Regions from separate parts of the Homo sapiens genome. Here region 1 is linked to region 2. Evidence: fine-mapped expression QTL. Tissue or cell type: whole blood. Region 2 holds a variant in brackets; the other region holds the start of a gene. All regions are shown on one strand. Distances are between the middles of the regions.

What was found. PIP is the estimated chance that this variant, and not a neighbour inherited with it, causes the effect.
Region 1: it holds the start of TTYH2, and the variant in region 2 is fine-mapped to the expression of TTYH2 in whole blood (TOPMed, PIP above 0.99).

Annotation. Positions count from the first base shown.
Region 1 is chr17:74,208,803-74,216,901 of GRCh38, reverse strand. It overlaps TTYH2 (tweety family member 2), which reads right to left and starts at 3,331. Exons shown (of 14, transcript NM_032646.6): 1 at 3,186-3,331. The coding sequence starts at 3,314. RPL38 (ribosomal protein L38) reads right to left here. Exons shown (of 5, transcript NM_000999.4): 4 at 7,593-7,715; 5 at 6,247-7,098. The coding sequence ends at 7,073. It overlaps MGC16275 (a long non-coding RNA gene), which reads left to right and starts at 3,581. Exons shown (of 2, transcript NR_026914.1): 1 at 3,581-4,378; 2 at 5,220-6,922. RefSeq lists enhancers at 987-1,036, 6,360-6,409 and a silencer at 3,295-3,454.
Region 2 is chr17:74,237,101-74,245,199 of GRCh38, reverse strand. It overlaps TTYH2 (tweety family member 2), which reads right to left. Exons shown (of 14, transcript NM_032646.6): 4 at 7,686-7,906; 5 at 1,731-1,826; 6 at 1,151-1,223. Among named protein-coding and RNA genes, the nearest start is that of TTYH2, 28 kb to the right of the region's middle. RefSeq lists an enhancer at 1-318. The variant T/C (reference allele first, on the strand shown) is at 3,028.

The sequences.
Region 1 (8,099 bases), 28 kb after region 2:
TGAACTCATTAGTTCTTTTATCATCTCTTTAGAGTAGGAATCGTCTCCAAATCCAATCCCCCTCATCTGTCAAAGGTGAGAAGACTTGGGCTGCAGGTCTAGGCTGATTTCCTTCCAGACATACAGCCACATCTGGCAGCCCAGAGCTGGGTGCCCGCCAGGGCCAAGGTGCCCTCGTCCACAGCCCTGCCTTGGTGCTCACCTCTCATGCCTCTACTCACTGGAGGGTAGCCTCCCCACAAGGCTGGTGACACAGGCCAAGTGGCCTTTGCGAGGACTTGGGCTCAAGTTCACTGGGGGGAGAGGGGTGAGGATCAACTATCAGGAGGACTGGGGGCTTTCACGGCTCCCAAACACCCCAGAAAGTGAGTGAGAGCCCCTACTTCCTCAGGAAGGTTCTGGAACACTGAACTTGCTCAGGAAATCCCAGCTCACCAGGTGACCTGCTCTTCACCATCTCTGCACTTCCAAGAACCCCCTTGCCTTTGAGATCCCCCGCACCACCCACATCCTAAGGCCAGCACCTGCCTGTTTCCATCCTTGCTTAGTCTCTGATGCACACGCACCCACCCCCCACACCCCACACAGCCAGCACTGTGCATTTGAACATGTGGGGCATGAGCTGAAGCCCTTTCTGCAGGCGTTTTGTTCAGTCTCCCCCAATCAGAGTCTGTGGAAGAGATCTCCTTCCTCTCCATTCCCCAGCAGGGTACTGTCCTGAGACACACTCCTGAACCTCTCAGCCACTCCATTGAATGATCTGTGTCACTGGCTCCTGTTATGTGCTATGGGACTCTCTGTACTAGGCATGATATGTGGAATATCTCATCTAATTCTTGCAGATGAAGGGAACAAGGCTCAGAGAGGTTAAGACACCTACCCGTGGTCACACATGGAAAGAACTGGGAATCCACCCCAGCCAACTGGAGGGCAGAGCCCCACCTCAAACTGCTTGGTGTCTGCCATAGCACTGCGCCCAGAGCCCAGCCGCAGAAAATCCCCAGCAATTTCTCCTGAAGACCTGCTGCCTTGGTTACCACGGTCACCCCACGCCTGGCATAGCACTTGCTCCAGTCAAGCTTGCTGAAGACTGGGATGACCGACGGTCCACCTGACTCTGTTAGTGACTGGTGCTCAGGAGGAAAGAAGACATCCAGGAGAGACCTGTGGTCACAACAGGGGAACTTACCAAAAACAGGAGCCACCTTAAATAACACCCAGAGCCAGACTTCCGGTCCTGGCCCACCACGCTCATCTCCTACTCAGCGATCTGAGTGGTGGTGAGGGGGTGAGCGGGACCAGGAGCCAGTGGGCAGGGCTGGTGTCAGCTGCCCAGGAGCAGTGGCCGATGGGAAGGGACACCCTCTGGAACCATTTGATGCCCAGCACAAAGTGAGCCGGGGCCAGAATCCTGGGAGGAGGGGCAGAGGCTGGAGGTAGGTTCATCTGGCTCAACTGCCACCTGCCCATGGGACTGAGGGGGCTGTGGGCAGGCCCAGGATCCACCAGCCACAGCTGTTGGGCTGATAGGAACTGTCTCTGGGGCCATCAGGGTGAGGGAGTCCCCTTACCATCCCTACCCCCACCTAGGGGTCTTCTTGACCCAATGAAAAGTTTAGATTTCCTCCAGTGGAGAGGAGAAAACTATGGCTGGAGACCCCGGGTGTGGGATGTGGGGCACAGGGTTTGGGATGGGGACACACACACACACACACACACACACACACACACGGCTGTTTCTGAAATCATATCCGCCTCTTTTCATGCATTCTCTGGGAGAGGAAGATTCCCTGGAGCTATCCCCAGGCAGCCACATTCTCAGGGAACACAGACTCCCACAGGCTGGGCTCTGGGGGAGGGGGGTGGGTCCACCGACTGCCGTCTTGCTCCTGAGTGCCCACTGAACCCCAGGAAGGGGTCCTGATGCTCCCCTCCCTCTGGTAGGGCAGGCACCATCTGCCTGGGCCTGATGGCAGCCGGGTCGTCAGGGGTTATTATTAGACTCCCTGTCACTGGCGCTTGGGCACCTCACACTGGATCAGGATTCCCTCCAAGAGGCCCTGCTTTGCCCTGATCTGTCCCATATCTGGAGAACTTGACACAGGGAGAGGCCGCCGGGGGCCAAAGTCCTGAGATGGGCGCCTGGCTCTGAATAAATGGACCTCATCCTGGTCCACTGGCCCCAGAATCTTTGACCCAACACAAGGAACTGATACAGGTGGGCTCCCGGGGCCAGAGCAGGCGTGACCAGACCTGAGACGGGCTGGGAGATTCTGCAGCTTTGTTTGTCTGGGCAGGGAGGTCTGGGGAGCCCTGGCCCTGTTTGTGGGGTGCAGAATCCTGCCAAGGGTCAGCAGAGTAGGGAAAGGGCGGGGAAGCCGGGAGTGACTGCCCTAGGCCAGAAATTCAGGGCTTAAAGGTGTGAGGTAGAGAGAGGGGCGTGGGGGAACAGGAATGGGCCAGTCTAGGACCAGGGGACACAGAGAAGCTGACTGTCAATGCAAGGGGGTCCTCAGGACAACAGTGTGAGATGGGCTGACGGAGGCCACCTTCCTTCCCTGGAACAAGCGCAAGCAGCTGTGGGTTCTCTGCGCTAGAGGGGAAGTGACCCACACCGCTTCCCCAAGCCCTGCAGCCTTCCAGCTGAGACTCCCACCCTGCAGGCCGGGGCTGGGGAGGAGGGGTGCTGCGAAGACCGACTCGGGAGACTCTACTCAGTTTCTGCCAAACTTTCCTAGGCCACTCAGCCCCGGAAAGAGAGCGCCCCATCTTGGAATCTCAGACGGTCGAAAACTTCGGGGCACCCCTCAGCATCCCCGCACCTCGCGCGCCAGGATTACCCCGAGACGAATGCCCCTGTCCTTACCCCTCCCCCGCGCCGCCCTGCCCGCTCAGCGTTCAGCCCCTCACCCCGCAGGCGGTCTTGCGCCCTTCCTCCCCTTCCCCACGCTCGCTTCACTCTGATCTCTTCAGTTTTCCCGGCCCCCAGGTTCCCAGACAGGAGGGGACGCGGGCCACGGGCCTGGGAGGGTGGGGGAAAAGGGGAGAGGGGAGACGGGAAAGGGCTGCGCGGGGAGAGAAGGGGTCTGAGAGGCACGTGGGAAAGTGCAGGCTCTCGAGGGGAGAGGGGGTAGTGCGGGGACTTGGGGCGCGCGTGGCTGCGGTCTGGGGCGGCGTAAACTTACCTCCTGGTAACTCTCGTCGCCGGGGCTGAAGGTGCTGTTCACGGGCTGCAGGCGCAGGCCGACGTGCGGGACGCTGTGCAGCCACACGACCCACCAGGGAGCGATGTAGTCCACGCGCGCCGCCTGCATGGCTCGGCCCGAGTGCTACCCACAAGCTGAACGACAGCTGCGCTCACCTCCCGGCCGGGGCCCCGTGCCCGCCCCGCCCCCGGCCCCGCCTCTCCCTGGGCCCGCGCCCGCCCCGCCCCGCCGCGATCCCAGTCCCAGTTCTGGGCGCGCAGCCCGCTGCAGTCAACAGCCCCTTTCTGGGCGGGGATCTGTCCTGGCCGGATGGGAGGAGGGAAGTGAAAAAAGCTCCCAGAAGTCTCTAAATCAGTTTCAGTCTCGAGGTCCCCGGGCTGCTTCTTATTTATGATCAGATCAAGGGTATAAGGTGTCAGTGGGGGCAGCCAGCAGTCATAGGCCAGAGAGGGGCGACTGCCCGTCCCAAGGGCTTGTCACAGGGTAAGTAACCGACAGACTGGGAAAGGAAGGAGGCAATCTTCAGCCACTCGGTCACTCATTCTAAATTCACTCTCATTTTTTGGGCATCTATTGTGCAAGCCCTGTGGACTTAAAAAGAGAAATAAGACGCCGTCCCTGCCCTCGGGAGCTCCCGGCGCATCTGCCCCAACAACTCGCTGAAGCCGCCTGCAGGACGCCTGAGTGAGGACAAGGTGTCTCACTCAGAAAATTTGCTTGATTCTTCCTGGCAAGTGGGACAGGGTGAGCTTCCCGGAGGAGGGGACCTTCGAGCTGTGTAGCGGGGAAGGTAGGAGAGCGATGAGAGCGCCCGGAAGGGACAAGCATTCGGGGAGACTGAAGCGCATTCAACAACATATTTATTGAGCACCTACTACGTCCAGGCACTGTTACATCGGTGATGTAACAAAAGCCGACAAAAACCCTCACCCCGAGCGCAGGCACCGCAGAGGGCGATGACGACCCGAGAAGATGCCGAACGCAGGCCAGGAGGGGGCTCTGGGGAAAAGCAAAGGCAGGGGAGGTTGCCCATCGGGGAGCCTCGCGTCCCTGGGCCCTCCGTACTCTGCACATATGCAGAGGCCCCCACCCGTCCTGTAACCGCAAACTGCTTGGCGTGACTTGGCCAGCGGAGGGAGGAGCCCAGGCTGCAGGACAAGCAGGAGTCAGGGGTAGGTGCGGTGGAGTGATGGGGTCGCGGCAGATTGGGCGTGGAAACCGCGCTGGGCAGCCAGCCTGAGGGGTGCGTATCCACCGCGGCAGGGACGCGGGTGAGAAAGGAGCCCCGGGAGGACGGGGCGGGGCTCCTAGGGTTCTGGCTGAAGGGACCGGGTGGATGCGGACCGACTGAAAACGCTCGCAAACACATATGGCTGCTGGGGAGTGGGGCCCCAGTCACCCGGTGCTCAAAGGCCCTGTGTCCATTAGAGGAAGTCCTGGCCTCGGGGCCTCTCCTCGTGGCCGTGATCCCACGGTTCTGGGGCCCTGCAGGAGCCCAAAGCTGAGGGGCCCGGAAGGCTGGAAACAGCCATTCTTCTCTCATTGGGGTGTCTTTCAACAAATTTTCTTGAGCACGTTCTCTGTTCTAGAGGATACAGTAATGGATAAAACACACGTTCCCGCCTGCATGGCGTCTACAGCCTAGTAGGCGAGGTGAGGTGGACTTGTATCCTGCAAACAGCGATTGCAGGCCTTGTGAAATGTCAGAGTCCCTGCTGTAGGGAGAGGGGATGGAAGGTGGGCGTCAGGGTTGTTTCCCAAAGGACAGTGACATGAGCTGAAGGATGATCGGGAGTCAAAGAGGGGGGTGCTGGGGGAGGCCTCTGTGCAGAAGGAACAGGACCCTGTGAGATCAGGGACTAAGGCCAGTGGAAGGGGAAGCAAGCAAGTTCCAGAACAGGACAGGGAGCCGGAGAACTGCAGGAGCCAGGCGATCAGCTTGGAGACTGCGGCAGGGGAGGGAACTTCTTTGGGTGAAAACCTCCTTTTAAAAGGTCTTGGTCTCTGACTCAGTCCCTGCAGTTGCTGGGGAAAGTGGACTCTTCTGGTAGCTGCTTTTACAGCCCCTGCCCTCAGAGGCCCCCCAGGTGGGAAGGGCCTGCCTCCTAGGCAGTGGGTGGTCACCGAGGACTGACTTTGAACCCGGGGCAAGGGAGCCCCAGAAGGCTGGAGGCCTGCACACGGCACTGGAAGAAACAAACTGCAAAGGCTGTCCCTCAGGGCTATCTCCACAGCCACCGGAATGCGGCCTGGAATATCCAAACCTGTCAGCCCACCTGCACCCAGCCAGACAGCGACCATTCTAGCTGCTTCCCCGGAGGCCTGCTGACCCAGAGAGGTGTCAAAAAGCTGAAGCACAACAGACAGACCTCCCACAGACTCAGCAGGGAGTTGGAGGACAGTCGGCACACCAGCAGCTGTAGCCCATCACCTCCCCCCTCCCCATTCACCTGGTATGCAGCACTTAAGGGCTTGCTGAAGCCCCAGCAAAGCAGAGGCCCACCTGAGAGCTTGGAAACACACCTATGCCCCAGACCACCGCAATCGCAATCTCCAGTCAGCCCTGGCCACCACAGTGAACTGCCTAAGTGCCCCAGATGACTGAGTCACAAGCCAGGGCTGGGAAGCACTGCATGAAAGGCGGCCTTCTCTAGACAAGGCTGGACACACCCCTGCAAGGCCTGTCTCCTAGGAGCTGGGATGAAACTCTGGACGATGTGCTGGGAACAAAGAAAACCCACATGGTAAAGGCTCGCTTTTCCTTGGGAATCTGCAATGCTTACAGAACGGGAAAGGCTGAAAGCCGCCCACAGTGCCGCACCTGGGCCTGAGGGCTGGTGTACCCACCCTCTCCCGGAGGAAACAAGACCCGTGACCAGACTCAAAACCACCTCACACCCTCACAATCCTTACAGAATATTCAAAGACTGGCACTTCAACCTTACAACCTGAGCACGTCTAAATGCCTAACACAATACCAAGCACACTGTATGCCACGCTTTTAAAAGGTAGAGATCTTAAAAAAACAAAAAACACTACCTCGGGTATGAAGACAGATTTTATGATGCCAGTCATTTCCAGAGGGGCTGCCCGCTGTGGCACAGCACCACCTGGTGGCCACCCCAACCCATGCACCTCCCCCCATCCCAGTACCCTGACAGCAAGCCAATGAAAGAGGTGTTAATATGGCTATTTTCCAACTGAGGAAACAGGCAAAAGTGTAGTCATTTCTCCAAGTCAGTCAAGTTAGCGAGTGGTAGATGTGCTATACCTTGTTGCACCCATTTTGGGACCTGTTTGAATGGCATGCCCCACCATCGCTCCCACATCTGCCAGTTATGTTTAACCCCACGTGCTATTTCCATCATGGCCTCCCCACATCTTATTTTCAAACAGGCTGAAAACAGATGGCCTCATTTGCCGACTGAGATCATGCTCAAGATTAGGGATGCACCGGGCACGGAGGCTCATGCCTGTAATCCCAGCACTATGGGAGGCTGAGGCAGGCAGTGAAACCCTGTCTCTACTACAAATACAAAAATTGGCCAGGCGTGGTGATGTGTGCCTGTAATCCCAGCCACTCGGGAGGCTGAGGCAGGACAGTCGCTTGAACCCAGGAGGCGGAGGTGGTAGTGAGCTGATATCGCACCACTGTGCTCCAGGATGAGCCACAGAGCAAGACTCCGTCTCAAAGAAAGAAAAAAAAAAAAAAAAAAAGACACAGGAAGGCAGCAACAGAACCCGCGTCCTGTTCCCATCAGAAGCCACTACGAGGTAGCATTTTTCCCTTTCCCATCCGCAAAGACGAAAGACACTTAGGATTTTTAGTATTTTAATATAATACAGTTCCAATCAGTGTGTCTGGTTCATTTCAGTTCCTTCACTGCCAAACCTAGAGGGAAAGAGACAAAAGTAAGCCATCCAGAAGACACATCTGAGTTGCTGCTGCTTGTCTAAATTTTGTACTTAAGCTAAAGAGAGCACACAAGGTTCAGAAATTAGATCCACCAGCGAAGTTTCGGTTAAAATATTTAGTGTTTGATAAAAAGACTTGGTCTATTATATTCGATAAAAAGACTTGGTCTATTATATTTCATCTGTTCCCCTGTAAAAAATGGGGACTATCAGTACTAGCACCAACCTCGAAGGGTCGTGAACAGGATTAAATGAGCTCTAACCGCTCTTCTGGCTAAGGAAATGATTTCTGGTACTGTATATAATCTGAGAATCACAACTATTCCTCACACTCCCAACAGCAAGAGCAGATTCTTAGACCATAAAATGGGCTCTGAAATCTGAGAGGGATTCAAAACAAGATACAACATGGCCACACACAGCAACCTTCCAAACCCCACCCGCCCCTGAAGTGACTTCAGGCTCACTCACCGGGGGGCAGGGACTGCTTCAGTTTCTCTGCCTTCTCTTTGTCAGTGATGACCAGGGTGTAAAGGTATCTGCTGCATCGAACTTTAAACTTCACGTTGTCCTTATTTTTCTTGATCTTGACAGCTACCGGAGACCAGAATCAGGAATTAAATTGTATCACAGAAAACAGATGTGACACAGTCCATGTGCAAATACACTCAAGCAGTAAGCAGCATGCAGGAGACAGCACCCACCTCCAGTACCATCCCTCTGTGCAAACAGAAAACACTATTACCCGTTCCTCCAACTTGGGACTTTTATTGGGTACACTGAACACAACATTACAGAATATCTTCTATCAACCTTATTATCTTTCTTATTTCTACTTTGTTTTTTGAGACAGAGTCTCGGTCTGTTGCCAGGCTGGAGTGTAGTGGCGCAATCTTGGCTCCCTGCAACCTCCGCCTCCCAGGTTCAAGCGATTCTCCTGCCTAAGCCTCCTGGAGTAGCTGGGATTACAGGCGTGCA
Region 2 (8,099 bases):
CCCCTCTTCTCCCTTCTGCACAAGCCTCTGCCTAAGGTGCTAAGTCAGGCAGTGCCAGAGTCCCTGAGGGCATTGTGTCCACGCCCAGAGCTAGTGGCCAGCCCCCAAGTCACTGGACGAGGTGTGAGTGTGGTTAGGGAGCTTCTTGTACAAGCCACCCCCATCTTATCCTATCAAGCCTCAGGTCACTATGGCAGAACAGATGCATGTCCCAGGGTTAGTCTGTGGACTTTGAATCAGTGAGGGGTTCCTTGAATTCCCCTGGTAAACTGTGTTCTCTTCTATCACGTGCATGTGCATGAACACACACACACAAACACACACACACACACACACACACACACTGCACCTCCACTGTATCAAAGCCTGGGGTTGCAGTGATCTGCCTATGAGTCTTGCTTCCAAAGGCTGGAACTTTGTCAACAGCAAACATCACGTCCTCTTGGCTTCCGCAACCCCAGGCAACTTGTACCATCGAGTGCCACCCAGCAAACAATGTCAGCTGAGTGAATGAACAGCCTCATGCACACAGCTTAGCGCCAGTGTTAGGTCCTTTAAAGATCATGTGGACCCGCATAGGAAGCCCCCAACTTTTTTTTTTTAAGCCATTTTGAGACATCACATCCAGAAACATACAGCATGTGTGCTTCAGACCGCGGGAGTCCTGGGACATTGGGATGGAAGGCAAGTCAGACACCACATTCTACAGTCCCAGGGCCTGGGGAGCTGGCAAAGCAGCAGCTTCTGATGCGGGAGGGATTCCCCAGTCTGAGGCTTGGACCCCTACCCATTCTCAGGAGACCCGGTCAGTTCTTCACACCCAGAGAGAAGCGCCCTGGTCACCCAGGCACGCCTAAGCCTAAGCACGTGTAAGCCTAAGCATGCCTGGGCAGCCGGGGGCTTCTCTCTGGGTATGAAGCATGAGTGTCTTATCCTGGCTCTGACCCTGGGCAGTCCCCTTCCTTTCTCTGGGCCTGTTTCCCCATCTGTAACGAGAGGGGCCGGTTCAGATGACGCAAGTCCCTTTGGTTCTGAGATTCTGGGATTCTAGGTTAGGAGCTGGGACCGGAAGCTGGCCCTGCTTGGAGACACACCAGAGTGTCCTGGCAGACCAACCACCACCCACCACCCACTCCCTCCCCCAACTCACCACTGCCGCAGAGCCATCAGCGGCCAGGGATGCCCAACTGAGGAGCAGGCTCAGTGCCCCACAGCACAGCATCCTAGGAGAGAGGCAGGCGACAACGTTGGCAGGCGGGGTCCCCTTCCTCTCAGCCATCACCCCACCCACCCTGCCCCCAGACCCTTGCAATGGATCCAAAGGCAGCCTCAGTCCCTGCCCTGACGTGGGCCCTGCTCACTACTAGGAAAGGACCATGGAGCCCAGGTCCTTGAGGCTAAAGAGACCCAGGCGTGAGAGCACAGGCTAAGGGGGCAGTGTTGGCTAAGACGGCCAGAGGCTTTCATGCACGGACCCATGTTTCTTAGCTGCTCAACAGAGTCAGGCCCAGAGAAGGAGGAAAGCCTAATGCTTGCTCGTTTGGTGACCAGATGGTGAGTTGGTGGCTGCTGTCTGTCTCCTCTGCTGAGTGCTGAGGACGGGGCAGAAGGTGGCCTCAGGCAGCCTGGCTATTTTCCCCACACTCTGGAGCTGGCCAGGCCCTCGTCTCTCTCTGATGATGGCATCCTGCCCAGCTCTTTGTCCCAGGTCCACGGGTAGGGATACTCACGAGGCCAGGAGACACTTGGAGCGCTTGGCCAGTCCCAGGCAGGCAATGAGGCAGATGACCAGGTCCAGGATAAAGAGCAGGAGGTAGGAGAGCCACCTGGGTAGAGGGGCAGGGATGGTCAGGAGCAGCAGGGTGGAACTTCTGACCTGCTGGCCACGTGAGAGGCCTGCACGGCAGCCCTGGGACACACTGGACCCTCTACTATGGACATGCTGCCCAGAGCCAGCAAGCACCCAGCATGCGTGGGCTGAAGCCTCGGGAGCTGCACCCCCACTGCTGCCTGGACAAAGCTGTCAATTCACACCCCCTGCCTTCACCTCTAGGCTGAGTGTCAAAACCAGCACTGTGCACTAGAACTTTCCCCAGTGGAGGAGCTGTTCTAAATCCCTGCTGTCCACTCTCTTCTTTGCCACTACCCACAGGTGGCTACCGAGAACTTGAAATATGGCTTGTGCAACTGAAGAAATACATTTTAAACTTTACTTAATTTTAATTAATTTCAATAGCCACACATGGCTGGGGCTACCACCCTGGACAGCACAGCTCTGAAGTGTCTTTCTGCGGCCTCCCAGCAGGCATCGCCTAGGACCCTGCTTCCCTTTGCTTCTAGAACTCTCAGACAGCATCAGACCAGCCAAGGCCTGATGTTTATAGCCACAGATCTAACACAGCCCCTAAGGTGCCTGCCTCTTTGACAAACACTCAGCCTGGCTCCCCAAGGCCTCCCATCTTGCCCCCTTGCTGGATGGGATCCATAACTTAAGACTTTTAGGTTCAGGACAGGCGCAGTGGCTCACGCCTGTAATCCCAGCACTTTGGGAGGCCAAGACGGGCAGATCACTTGAGGCCAGGAGTTCGAGACCAGCCTGGCCAACGTGGTGAAACCTCATCTCTACAAAATATACAAAAATTAGCCAGGTGTGGTGGCGGGCACCTGTAGTCCCAGCTACTCGGGAGGCTGATGCAGGAGAATCACTTGAAACCAGGAGGCAGAGGTTGCAGTGAGCTGAGATGGCGCCATTGCACTCCAGCCTGGGCCACAGAGTGAGACTCCATCTCAAAAACAACAACAACAAAAAACTTCAGGTTCATTTTTAAACAACATTTGTGCCAGGCACTGAGCTTGGCACCAGGGATACCCAGGTGAGTGGGCTCGTTTCTGACCATCAGAGGGCTCAGTGTGGAACCCGGGAGTCCAGGTCAGGGTACCTACAGCCCTGCAGACCTCCAGCCTCCTCCAAGCCCTTCATTCCTCTGGCCTTTTTGTCCCCAGGGCTGGACTGATGGGGAAAGGCAG[T/C]CACACCCCAGCTGGGAGACCTTGGTAAGCCACTTCACCCCTTGAGACCTTGGTTTCCATATCTGTAGAGGGAGCTGGAACCCCTCATCTCACAGGGCCAGAGGAAGGATTAAGTGCTTGCTAAATATAAAGGTTGATGGGGCAAGGCAGCCAAGGACTTCAAAGGCCCTGCCCTCCTGCTTCTCCAGAGAACAGGCTGAAGAATCAAAGTATCTTAAGCCAACGGACACTGAGAAGACCCCAAACAAAGTGCCCTCGTTCCTTTCCCTTCCACACAGGTCCCCAAGGTGGTCCTCACAAGGCCCAGTGGTCTCCCCTGGCAGCCATGCCCTTTACCCTGTGCTGGGCACCAGCGGGAGAGTGGACAGAGGAGGGGCGGGCACAGAGACAGGGGCTTCCCCGTCCCCAAAGAGGGAAGTATTTGGATCATTATTTCTCTTGCTGCAAGAGCCAAGTAAAGTCGCTGACCTCTCCTCTCCAGCAATGGTTTTCTGCTTCACTGACATCATAAAGGGGAAGACGGAGTTTGGAGCGTGGGCAGGGAGTGCCCTGGAGCTGGCAGAAAGTGGCAAAGAGGCTCCGAGGGAGAGAGGGGAGGGAGCAAGCTGGAGGCCTGGCAGCCAAGGGAGGTTCTTTCTGACTCCCCGAATTGAGGCTTACTGCCAAAAGAAGGGGACTAATCAAAGTCCTTGTCTCTGCACGAGCAGGGGGCAGCACACACTAGGTCTCTGGGGTTCCCCGGAATGGAGCCGGGGGCTTTGGGGAGTGGGCAGAGCCTGCTGCCACCAAGAAGCCAGTTTCCTTAGACTTAGCTCAGAGCTGGAAGGAACCTCGCAAACCATCTAGTGTTTGGATCACATTCTTATTTTTACACGCACACACACACACACACACACACACACACACACACGTATTATAAATACCGGGTCTGTCTATGTTGTCCAGGCTGGTCTCAAACTCCTGGACTCAAGAGATCCTCCTGCCTCAGCCTCCCAAAGTGCTGGGATCATAGGTGTGAGCTGGATCCCATTCTACAGATTAGTACAGATTAGAAAGCCAAGGCCCCTGGTGGGGAGAGCCTGGCCCAGAAATTCCACATTGTCTACATCAAGCTTCCTGCAAGGGACACAGCCAGCTACAGGGCACCTCTCGAAATACCCAGTTCATGTTTCAAACTTAAAGATTTCTTCTCACCACTCGCCTCCGCTCTGCAGAGCAGCAGGAAATCCAGTTAGGGGTGCTTCTAACCCACTCTCTGTGGCTGTGATTCAATGTATTTTCCCTGCCTCCACGCCTCATGTTGTCAGGGGTTCCTGGAAACATCTCCTCTAGGCGGATGTGTTTTCCCAGAGGAGCTGGGCGAGGACTGGGGGATGTATTCCTAACCAAGAACTCGGCTCTGCCTGCCAGAGCCACTCCCACCCCGGCTCCCTCTTCCCTCAACCGTAGCCTCTCAAAGAGAGGAGCCCCTTGGCTTTTTATCTCCTCCAATACTTCGCCCCGCCTTGTATAAAAATGCTAGGAAATATCTGCTTTGCTGCATGGTTATGCTCAAGGACTATCCCAAAAGCAAAGACAGGGGCCCTTCAGGGGAGGGCTTTTTTTGCAGAGCAGCTCAGGTGAGAGGAGAAGCCACAGATGGAAGCAAAGACAGGAGAAGGGGTAGAATATCACTGATGTTCAGGCGCCATAGGTGCCAACCTTGGACTAGACCTCTGCTTTTTTTTTTTTTTTGAGACAGAGTCTCACTCTATTGCCCTGACTGGAGTGCAGTGGCGCAATCTCGGCTCACTGCAGCCTCCGCTTCCTGGGTTCAAGCAATTTTCCTGCCTCAGCCTCCCAAGTAGCTGGGACTACAGGCGTGCGCCACCACGTCCAGCTAATTTTTGTATTTTTAGTAGAGATGAGGTTTCTCCATGTTGCCCAGGCTGGTCTCGAATTACTGGCCTCAGGTGATCCACCCACCTCAGCCTCCCAAAGTGCTGGGATTACAGCATGAGCCAAACCTCTTCTGCCTCAACCCGAATAAGCAGTGGGGAGTTGGGGATGGACTCACAGGGGGTCCTGTCAATCACCCACGCTGAAATAGCTGATGTGCAGTTGACACCATCCTTCCACTATTTTAATACCATCGCCTTAACAATAAGCCGCCTTTGATATGTAAATTCTGACTTAATTCCATCAGTGTCATTAACAAAATGCCCACATGAGGCCCTTAAACATACACAGTCCTCTGCTAGGTGTGCTCAGAGAAGAGTGACGTTAAAATGGGTCCTGCCCCTGCCTGACATAAGATTTCGAAGGCTCAGGCAATGAATGGCCCATGCATCAGGAGAATCATCAGACACCCCTGTTTTGGGGCCACAGGAGGTCACAGACAGTCCTTAGAGCTGGCAGTTTCCTTCTGTCCCTTGGGAGGGAGGCTCTTTTGCCCATGAGCATCCATCTGCTGGGGAGTGGGGCCAAGGTCCCTTCAATCCAGAGCATCCAGGACATGGCGGAGATGCAGGGACTGGACGGGCTGGGGAGGCAAGGTGTGGGGAGGACCCCCAGAGCTGGGGACTTCATGAGCTCCCTCTGCTCAGGGACCTGCCACCTCCTATTTTTGGGAAGGGGAGAGGCCCCTGGACTCAGTCCAGCAGTGACCTCCTGGAGTGGGGCTTTATGACACAAGGGGACACAAATCCAGAAAACAGAAGTAAGTTGTGCAACCCTGAGCTAAAGGCTCTGACGTTCATCAATGGCTTGAAGAGGAGCCAACAAATGGAGGGTGCGGGGAGGGATCCAAAGAACTGACACTCGCTCCTCCTGACTCATGCTTCCCCTCCCCACGTGCCTCCTCCATGCTAGGCCCGGGCCCTGGGAGCACAAGCCCAGGCCATCATTCAGCCGGGAGCCCTCCAAAGGCTGGGGCTGCTGCCTCCTTCCTGTGCTTTCCACGGAGCAAACTTCGCTGGACCCTGCACCTGGAGAGGGGCAGCAGGTCCCTGCTCCGCCGATTGTGTCCAGTGCCTCTGGCTAGGCTGGGATTTGGCAAATGGGGAGGCAGGGGAGATGTAAACAAAGCCCCAGAGGTCAGATGACACGGGCATGAGTTTGTACACCTAAGTGAGGGTGGTGCCCCTCAGTCCCCATCACTCAGGTTCTACATAAGTGAGGCTGGTCTGGGCATGGTGGCTCATGTCTGTAATCCTTGGACTTTGGGAGGCTGAGGTGGGAGGATTGCTTGAGGCCAGGAGTTTGAGACCAGCCTGGGCAACAAAGCAAGACCCCTATTTCTAAAAAAAAATTTTTTTTTTTTTTTTGAGATGGAGTTTCCCTCTTGTTGCTGAGGCTGGAGTGTGATGGCATGATCTTGGCTCACTGCAACCTCCACCTCCTGGGTTCAAGCAATTCTGCTGCCTCAGCCTCCCAAGTAGCTGGGATTACAGGCATGCGCCACCACGCCCAGCTAATTTTGTATTTTTTAGTAGAGACAGGGTTTCTCCATGTTGGTCAGGCTGGTCTCGGACTCCCGACCTCAGGCGATCTGCCTGCCTTGGCCTCCCAAAGTGCTGGGATTATAGGTGTGAGCCACCAGTCCCAGCTGCAAAAAAAAATTTTTTTAAACTAGCCAGGTGTGGTTGTATGCCTGTAGTCCCAGCTACTCAGGAGGCTGAGGCGGGAGGATCACTTGAGCCCAGGAGTTCAAGGCTACAATGAGCCATGATCACACCACTGCACTCCAGCCTGGGTGACAGAGTGAGATACTGTCTTAAAAAGAAAGAAAAAAAAAGTGAGTCTGGGGACACAGCCTCATTCCTCCCTTGTGCCTCCTCCACGCTTAGGCCCAGGCCCTGGGAGCACAATGACTTGTAGGTCAGAGCCTCCCCTGATGGCAACTTCTTAGCACCCTTAGCCGGGTGCTCATCTCCTCAACCCCCCATAACCCTGTGGCTGTGTCTGTGGATACAAGAAATCCTGTCCCATGAACTCTGGCAGGCGAGGAACCTATGAAGCATGTGGCGTTTCCACCCTGCACCAGCCACGAAGAATGCTAGTCCCAGAGAAGCACCCCACCGTGTGCGGGAGGCTGAGGCCAGGTCCAGCCTTTGGCGCGGGGAGTGTGAGCACATCCCTGTCCTCTGTAGCCTCTGCTGCCTATCTATTAAGGAGGCTATCCTGCATGCTCACCACGTGGCCCCTGTAAGCCCCCATGTTCTCCTGATTTTGGCCAATGGCTTATCAAGACTTTCTGGTGGGCTGGGCATGGTGGCTCACGCCTGTAATCCCAGCACTTTGGGAGGCTGAGGCCAGTGGATCACTTGAGGCCAGGAGCTCGAGAGACTAGCCTGGCCAACATGGTGAAACTCTGTCTCTACTAAAAATACAAAAATTAGTCTGGCGTGGCGGCACACACCTGTAGTCCCAGCTACTTGGGAGGGAGGCTGAGGCAAGAGAATCTCTTGAACCCCGGAGGTAGAGATTGTAGTGAGCTGAGATCGTGCCACTTCACTCCAGCCTGGGCAACAGAGCAAGACTCTGTCTTAAAAAAACAAAACAAAAAAAAAATACTTTCCAGTGGCCCTTCTCCACCTGGAGCTCAACATGCAGGTTTGGATAAACAAAGCTGATGTAGCCGCTGCTGCCCCTCCCTCTGCCTCCCACCGGTCCTTCACCTGTAGTACTCCACGTAGCCAGTCTGGTCGGATAGCTTGGTCAGCTCCATGGTGACCTCCCTCCACACGGGCAGTCCTGAGAGCTGAACAACAACGCTGCCCGCCATCTGCTGTATGAACTTCAGGGTCTGCAGGTAATCGCCCCGGGCAGCAAAGATCTCACTGAGCCGGGCCAGGTGCTGCTCTAGGTCCACCTTCATCTTCTGGGTAGTTCCGGAAACCTAGGGAGGAGCAGGGGGCAAAAGCCATGGAGGTAGAGCTTCTGATTCTCATCCCGGAAGAGGTCTTTGCAGGCAGCAGAAGGTGGCCTGGCCAGGTGCGATAATTACGCTCATGCCTGTCATCCCAGCACTTCGGGAGGCTGAGGCAGGCGGATTGCTTGAACCCAGGAGTTTGAGACCAGCCTGGGCAACA